Regions from separate parts of the Homo sapiens genome. Here regions 1 and 2 are each linked to region 3. The links come from fine-mapping of genetic effects on gene expression. A gene starts in region 3. Each other region holds a variant in brackets. All regions are shown on one strand. Distances are between the middles of the regions. Region 1 overlaps DNPEP-AS1 (DNPEP antisense RNA 1). Region 2 overlaps SPEG (striated muscle enriched protein kinase). Region 3 holds the start of SPEG (striated muscle enriched protein kinase).

The links. PIP is the estimated chance that this variant, and not a neighbour inherited with it, causes the effect.
Region 1: its variant is fine-mapped to the expression of SPEG in whole blood (TOPMed, PIP above 0.99).
Region 2: its variant is fine-mapped to the expression of SPEG in whole blood (TOPMed, PIP above 0.99).

The regions. Positions count from the first base shown.
Region 1 is chr2:219,395,910-219,398,663 of GRCh38, reverse strand. The region is part of intron 2 of DNPEP-AS1 (DNPEP antisense RNA 1); the gene reads right to left. It also overlaps a transcript of DNPEP not described here. Among named protein-coding and RNA genes, the nearest start is that of DNPEP-AS1, 8.7 kb to the right of the region's middle. The variant G/A (reference allele first, on the strand shown) is at 1,362.
Region 2 is chr2:219,465,690-219,468,443 of GRCh38, reverse strand. It overlaps SPEG (striated muscle enriched protein kinase), which reads right to left. Exons shown (of 41, transcript NM_005876.5): 10 at 1,010-1,270. Among named protein-coding and RNA genes, the nearest start is that of SPEGNB, 29 kb to the left of the region's middle. RefSeq lists enhancers at 1,182-1,724, 1,972-2,637, 2,638-2,754. The variant C/T (reference allele first, on the strand shown) is at 1,255.
Region 3 is chr2:219,433,579-219,436,332 of GRCh38, reverse strand. It overlaps SPEG (striated muscle enriched protein kinase), which reads right to left and starts at 1,490. Exons shown (of 41, transcript NM_005876.5): 1 at 968-1,490. The coding sequence starts at 1,355.

The DNA.
Region 1 (2,754 bases), 38 kb after region 3:
CTTTTTTTTTTTTTGAGATGGAGTCTTGCTCTGTCGCCCAGGCTGGAGTGCAGTGGTGCAATCTCGGCTCACTGCAACCTCCATCTCCTGGGTTCAAGCGATTCTCCTGCCTCATCCTCCCAAGTAGCTAGGATTACAGGCATGTACCACCACACCCAGCTCATTTTTGTATTTTTAGTAGAGACAGGGTTTCACCATGTTGGCCAGACTGGCCTCGAACCCCTGACCTCAGGTGATCCACCCGCCTTGGCCTCCCAGAGTGCTGGGATTACAGGCGTGAGCCAACGCGCCCGGCCCCAAGTTACTATTATTTGCCATTTATTCACTAATTTAGTAAACATTCATTGAGAACCTACTACATGTCAGGCCAGGCACTAAAGATATCAAGATGATTAGCGCAGCGACCTGCCCTTAAGTTGCTCACGGTTCAAAATGAGAGATAATACTAGCTCACAAGTACTGCCCACTTAACTATTTGAAGAACTCAGTGATGAGCACCCTACGTGCATTATCCCATTTACTCCTCATAACATTATGAGGTTATGACTATCTTCCACCGGTTTACAGATGAGGAAGCTAAGGCTCTAAGTCTGTGGTGTGATGGTAGATGTTTAACAGCTAGCTCTCTGGGCCAGGTGTGATGGCTCACAACTGTAATCCTAACACTTTGGGAGGCCAAGATGGGAGGACTGCTTGAGCCCAGGTGTTTGCCGCCAGTGCGGGCAACATACTGAAACTCCATCTAAAATTAAAAATTAAAAAAAAAAGAAAAGCATCCAGGCACAGTGGCTCATGCCTGTAATCCCAGCACTTTGGGAGGCCGAGGCGGGTGAATCACTTGAGGTCAGGAGTTTAAGAACAGCCTGGCCAACATGGCAAAACCTTGTCTCTACTAAAAATACAAAAATTAGCCAGGCATGGTGGCACATGCCTGTAACCCTTGCTAATCTCCAATCTCATGACTTTAAATAGCATCTGTACCCCGATAATTGTCAAATTTACATACCCCCAGCCCAGATATCTCTTCTGAACTATATATAATCTCACATATCCAATTGTTTTTGCACAGTGTCCGTGTGGGCCTAATAGGAATCTCCAGTGTAATGTCTTAATCTGAACTCCTTGTTCCCCAAACCTATTCCACCCACATTCTTGATCATATGGAGGCTACTTGGAAGGCTGAAGCACGAGAATCACTTGAATCCAGGAGGCTGAAGTTGCAGTGAGCCAAGATCACGCCACTGTACTCCAGCCTGGGCAACAGAGCAAAACTCTGTCTCAAAAAATAAAACAAAACAAAACAAAAAACCAATTAGCTCTCTGGAAGAAAAAAAAAATGCCCTGATTTGTAGTGTTTGCCA[G/A]TCTCAGTGGTGTAAATACTTGCAGGCCTGTCTCAAGCTTCCTGTCTGATGTCTCTGAATGTGGAACAGGAAAGAGACGGGGGTGGGAGGGGAGGGGAGGGGGGCTGGCTCTGGCACAACACGGCAAATACGACCCACAGCTAATAAATGCAGGAGCCAGGATGTGAGCCCGGTGTGTGGATCCTGAGCCCACGCTCATAACCACTTTGTTATACTGTCACTAACTATACAAGAGCATTGACATTCAAGGGGGATACATCTTAAGACCTTTGTGAAGTGCCAGTTTTACAGTGTTCCATAAAACTTGCAAGGTTAGTAACCAGCACTTTCCTATACCTCTTTGTTTTCATCACTAACAGGAGCAGTTGGTTTTCCTTTGAGGGCCATTCTGAAAACCTTTTTATTTGGAAATAATTTTACCTTCCCAAGAGGTTGCAGAAATTGTACATGGAGGTCTGTGTGCCCTCCACTCAGTTTCCCCAGATGGTTACATCTTAGATAAGCACAGCACAGTATTACACTCAGGAAAGTGACACAGGTAAAATGTGTGTGCGTAGGGTTTGATGCTATTTTTTTCTAGGTTTGCCAGATTTAGCAAATGAAAATACAGGAAACTCAGTTAAATTTTGTTTTTAGTATAAGCATATCCCATGCAATATTTGGGACATACTTATACTGAAAAGATTATTCCTTATCTTTTTTTTTCTTTTTTTTTGAGATGGAGTCTTGCTCTGTTGCCCAGGCTAGAGTGTAGTGGTACGATCTCAGCTCACTTCAACCTCCACCTCCCAAGTTCATGCGATTCTCCTGCCTCAGCCTCCCTAGTAGCTGGGATTACAGGTGCCCGCTACCATGCCTGGCTAATTTTTGTATTTTTAGTAGAGATGGGGCTTCACCATGTTGGTAAGGCTGGTCTCGAACTCCTGACCTCAAGTGATCCGCCTGCCTTGGCCTCCCAAAGTGCTGGGATTAGAGGTGTAAGCCACCCACGCCCAGCCCTTGTTTATCTTAAATTCAAATTAAACTGGGCATTCTGTATTTCATTTGGCAACCCTAACTTTATCATGGTTAGAGTCATAACCACCATTATAATCAAGACATAGAACTATCCATCACCATCAAGATATTCCTGAGCTACTCCTTCATAGTCACACATCCCTCCCCAAATCCTCCCTAGCCCTGAGCAACCACTAATCTGTTCTCCATCTCTATAATTTTGTCATTTTTTTCACTCAGCATAAGGCACCTGAGATCCATCCACAGCGTTGCATTTAGCAACCACTCGTTCCTTTTTATCGCTGAGTATTATCCCATGAGGGCCCTTTTTCACAAAGAACAATTATTTTTCAAAATTTCTTTAATTCAGTAAGTGTTTATTGTATATCCACTACCT
Region 2 (2,754 bases), 32 kb before region 3:
GGAGGAAGTGGGCACAGATCCAGAGACTAGACCTCGAGAGGGTGGAGGTCAGCAAGGGTGGGTGCAGACTGCCATGGTGGGCTGGGGACTCCATAGGAGCCCAGGGCCTGAGCCCAGGGCCTGGCCCCAGCTCCCCCCTCCTCCCCTCACCCTGCCCACCCTGGATGAAGCACAGCCCAGCTCTGATAGGGTCCTAGAAGCCAAGCCCACCCCTCCTCCATCTACTTCTCAGAATTCTCCTCTGTGCTGGGGTCATGCCCATGCTCCTAGCCACCTTCCCCAGACCCAGAGCAGATGCCCCTTGGCCCCACCTACCAACCCTCAAAGAAGCTTCTGGAGGAGATAAGGGTCCCTTATGTTGACCCGATGCACCCTCCTGCTTCTAAAGCCCCTCCAGCTTCCGCTTAGGTCTTCATCACCCACAACGTAGCAAGGCAGGTGCCATAATCTCTGCCCTTCCATGTGGGCAGGCCCAGGTCAGAGATAGCATCAGTGGTAACAATGGCTGGCATTTATTAGGCAGGTGTGCCATTTGAAACCCATTTCTGGAATGCTCAGTGCCCTACCCTCTCCTGGAAAGGCCCTTTGACAGGCCCTGTGCTTTGTTCTTCACATAAACTATCTCATTAATCCTGCCAATCCCTCTACAGAGGAGGAATGATCACCATCCCTGTTCTACAGATGAACAGGCTAAAGCTCAGAGAGATGAAGTGACTTGTTCAAAGTTATATGGCTGGTGACTTGCAGGGCAGGCGTGGGAACCCACGTTCACCTCAGCAGATGCACTCCCTCCTAGGAACAGTTAACCCTGTTGCGGCCTTTCCTTTGTGCTATGCACTATTCTAAGTGCTTATTTTATTGAGGCCAAGGCAATGTACTAGCTCCCACCCTCCCCCGCTTCCCCTCGGGGTTGGAGCTCTGTTTCCCAGGCATCTTACTGTACACCCCCAGTCCCCTCCCTCCAGCTCTTGGGCACCCACGGCAGCCCAATGCCTGAGTGGGGAGTTACCTTTGGCCGTGCTGAGCTTGCAGGTGTAGACGCCACTGTCGTCCTCATGTACAGATGTAAGTAGCAGCTTGCATTTGCGGCCATCGAAATGCATCTTGCATTTGAGCAGTGCAGGCTGCAGCAGGCGGCCACGGCACAGCCAATCCACCTCCACGTCAGTGGGCCCCGCCACCAGGCACTCAAACAGCGCCATCTCCCCGGCCCCCACGTCCACGTCCTGCAGGGGGGCCAGCACGGCCAGGGAC[C/T]GGCTTTCAGGGTGTGCTGAGGGGAAAGCAGCCACGGGGGCCACGCACAGAGCAGAGACACACAGGGTGAGGGAGACACACATACGCACGCACAGAGAGACAGACAGACACAGAGAGAGAGATGCATTTTGTTCTCTGGAGATGGGGAAAGCCCACCCACCTGGCCAGGACAGCAAGGCATGCCCAGACCTGGCTTTGAGATGGCAATCCAAGCTGGGCCAGGGAGGGTGATTCATGGAGGCAAGAGGGAACTGAGGGAGGGGAAACTGAGAGGGCCACGTGGTGGCAGAGACATCGGCGGGGGAAAAAAAAACACAACACACCAGATAGGTACAAACTGGACTTTATTTGAGTTAAGAAATAGGTGTTTCCAAATTTCTCCACGCTCACTACAGTGGCCCCCTGCCCCTGCTCCTGCACCAAACTTGGTTAACTCCCTCATTCCCAGACAGAGCACCCCAGCCCTGACAGAGAAGGAGGGGGCCCCAAATGGGCCCTAAACCTGCCAGGGCCAGGGCTCAGCCAGGCTGTTCATCAGCACAGAGCCTGGGGCCTCTGGCTTTTGGTCTTTTGTGAAATAGAAAGTGTTGTGCCATTCGAAACCCATTTCTAGAATGGTCAGTGTCCTAACCCTTCCTGGTAAGGCCTTTGTCAACAGCCCCTGCTCCTTGGGCCCCTCCATGCCATGCCGTAATCTCTCCCACTCTGTCTCACCCCACCTCAGCTCCGAGGCATCCTTCCCTGACTGTCACAGACACACAGACAGACAAACAGATAGACAGGCCTGTAGCAGCAGTAGCACATGCACTCGCCCGGTGCTCCCCTTCAGGGAGAGACTCGGGGGGTTGATACCCCTCGCAGCCGCCCCTTCCCAGCACTCAGTCCATCTGTGGGCCTCCTGGCCTGCACAGCCATGTGTCCACTTGGGGAGGGAGGGTCCACAGGGGCCCATGGGCTATCCCCCTGGGGGCTGCATGGGGTGGGGAGGGGAGGCTGGGACGGGTCCGGGCCGGCAGGCCTGGGTCTGTGGGCAGGAGGCAGTGAAACACAGCGAGGTCCGAGAGGTGCCTGAGACAGGGGCGCGGCTCGGAGGGTAGCGGGGGGAGCACAGGTGGCCCCCTGAGCTCACTCGCCTGTGTACAGACAAAAACCTCAGTCAGCAAGCGGCAGGTTAGTGCAGCATACGCGCACGCACGCGCACACACACACATGCACACACACGCATGCACACGCACACATGCACGCACACGTGCACGCACACGCGCGCACACACACACGCATGCACACACCCATACGCACACATGCACACGCACGCACACACGCACACACATGCACACACATGCATGCACATACACGCACGCATGCGCACGCACACGCACACATGCACGCACAGGCACGCAGACCTGGCTAGGGCCCTTCTGCATAGAGGGCTGCCTCTCACACCGTCAGGGCAGCACTGCCACTCTTGGCTCCCCCAAGGACAGCTCTGGGCTGCGAGGG
Region 3 (2,754 bases):
AAAAGGAAGCCCCCAAATGGATCCAAGGCTAACGGCCCTGGCCTGGCCTCCATGGTAGCCCCAGCTGGACCATGAGCACTGGGCCCAGCCTCTTGCCCTCCCCTTCTGCCTCAGACCCTCAGCCTTTTCTTCACACTGCACCTGGAAATCTATGGGCGGGGGACAAGCACTGGTCCATAGCATCCCCCTTCCATGCTCTGGAAACATCCACTCTGGAAGCTCAGGTAGACATGGTCCAGGAGCTTCCCATTCCAGCTCCACGTGCCCATACCTCACCTGTTTGCACCACCACACAGAATCCAGGGCCCTCCACAGCACCCATGCAGGCACACACCTGCATGTGGATTCTCAAGCACTCACCTCCATTCATGCCCATGGGGCCCTGGCTCGGGCTCCACCTCCTCCTACCCTGGACCCTGTTCACACGTGGCCAACCATAGGCCTCTTCCACACCCCACCTAGAGCTGACCACATCAACCCTGCCACGGCAATGGCCTGCAGGGAGCTCTGAGCCATCCCTTCAACAGTGCAGCCTGGACCAGAGGAGCTGGCCCCCTCCTTCGGACATGGACTCCCCTGTTAAGGAGCTGATCGGAGTGTCAATCTCAAGTTTAAATCATGGAACTGAAGGACACCCTTTCCCCCAGGAGGCTTTTCTCCACAGGAGGAGAAGAACTTCCACCCCAGAATTCCCTGAGAGGTGGGAGTGGGTCTCAGGCTTGGCTTATCAACCGCTTGCTGCCCCTTGACCTCTGACCTTCCTGTGGGGAGCCTCTCTACCTTGACACCCCATTCCCTGCACTTGGCTCTTCGTCTCACTTCTGGGGCCGGGCAGCCGAGAAGCCAGGGCACCTGGGAAGAAGGCGGCGGAACCAGTATCCAGTACCTTACCCGCGTGGCCTGGGCAGCCCTTTTCTACCTCTGAGCACCCCGCCCCTGCCGGGCGCGGCCCCCACCTGCCCTTTACCTCCGACCTCCAGCACTGTGAGCACCGCCTCGCAGGAGGCCCGGCCCCGCTCGTTCTGGGCCATGCAGCTGTACACGCCGGCGTCCTGCGCCCCGCAGCGCCGCAGCCACAGGCAGCTGGGCTCGGGGGCCGGCGCGGGCAGGAGCTGCCCATCCCGGAACCAGCGGAGGCTGGGCTGGGGCGTCCCGCTCACCACCACCCGCAGCCGCACGTCGCTGCCCGCGCACACCGCCGCGTTCTTCAGGGGCCGCAGGAAGACTGGCGCCCCGGCCACGGCCACAGGAGCCCCGCCGCCGGCCCCCACCTTGGCCCTTTTCGGGGGCACTCCGGGGCTGGGGGGTGCCCTCGTGCCCGCATCCTCGCCTCGCGTGCCCCGGGCTTTCTGCATGGCCACTGAGAGCTGGGCTGGGGGGACGCCGGAACTGGGCGGCCACGGGGGCACCCGCGGGACGGTGCCCTAGGAGACAAGTCTGGGGGGCCGGCGGCCTGCCTTCCTGCTGCCCGCCCGCCTTCGGCCTGTGCTACCCAGAAGGTCACCGGGGCGGCCGGCGATTGCGCCTGGGGGCTATTTTTAGGCCCCCCGGCTCGGGTTGCGAGGGAGCCGTGGAGGGAGGGGGCAGCAGGGGAGGGACTTGACTCCACTTGGCTCCTTCTCTCCCTCCAGGAGCCCCCATCGCCGGCCCGGCTTAAGGGAGTCCCTCGGTATTTGTTCCAGGCTTTCCCCTCCGTAGTGTGCCTGGCCCCCACACGACCCACTGCAGGGAGTCAGGTTACCCCTGGGCTCAATCCCATTTCCCTTCCTCCCTCATCTCAGACCCCTCATCCCTGCCCGGCTTCGCTGGGAGGGGAAGAAGAGGAACGGTCCTGGTGAGATGCCTGAGAGGTGGATGGGGAGGCAGGCCCAAGTGGAGGTGAGCAGACAGCTCCGAAGAGGGACCATGGCCTCCCCCAGCGCCTCCATTACAGCTGGCGAACAGTAAGACCAGGAGCCTGGGAGTCAGGTGGATTGGGGCCTCCACTGCGCCCTGCCCTTACTTGCTGGGTGACACCAAACCTCTCTCAACCTCCAAGTCCTCATCTGTAAGAATGGGTGGTGGAATAGGGTTGCAATAGGCAGAAAAGAGTGGGCAGGACATTCCAGGCAGAGGGAACGGCATGAACAAAATGAGCCTGATGAAAACAAAGGCGTCCTGGGAATTAGAGAGGTTTGGAGGGATTGAAGCGTAGTGGGTGGGGTGAGTGGAAGAAGGGAGGTGGGGCCTGGAGAAGGCTTTGTTTGCTAAGGCTTTGGTTTCTCTACCCTGAAAGCAGGGGGCGCCACTACACAGCTTTAAGCGGCAGAAAAAACACGGTGGGAGCTGTGTCTTAGGAGGATCCTCTTGGCGGCCACAAAGTGGAGGATGGATAGAAATGACGGCCAGTTCAAGTAAAGGCCAGATTCCCAGCCTCCTTGCCCCACACTGGTTCAGCAGCTGAGCTGGGAGGAATCTGCACATTTAACAAATGACTCAACTGATTCTGATGTGCCTAAGTGTTGCACGTTGAGAAACATCAAGAGTCCAGATGAGACCTTTGTGATAGAACAGTTCTGTATCTTGGCTGGGCGCGGTGGCTAACACCTGTAATTCCAGCACTTTGGGAGGCCGAGGTGGGTGGATCACTTGAACTCAGGAATTCAACACCAGCCTGGCCAACATGGTGAAACCTGTCTCTACTAAAAATACAAAAAATTAGCCAGGTGTAGTGGCTCATGCCTGTAGTCCCAGCTACTCAGGAGGCTGAGGCAG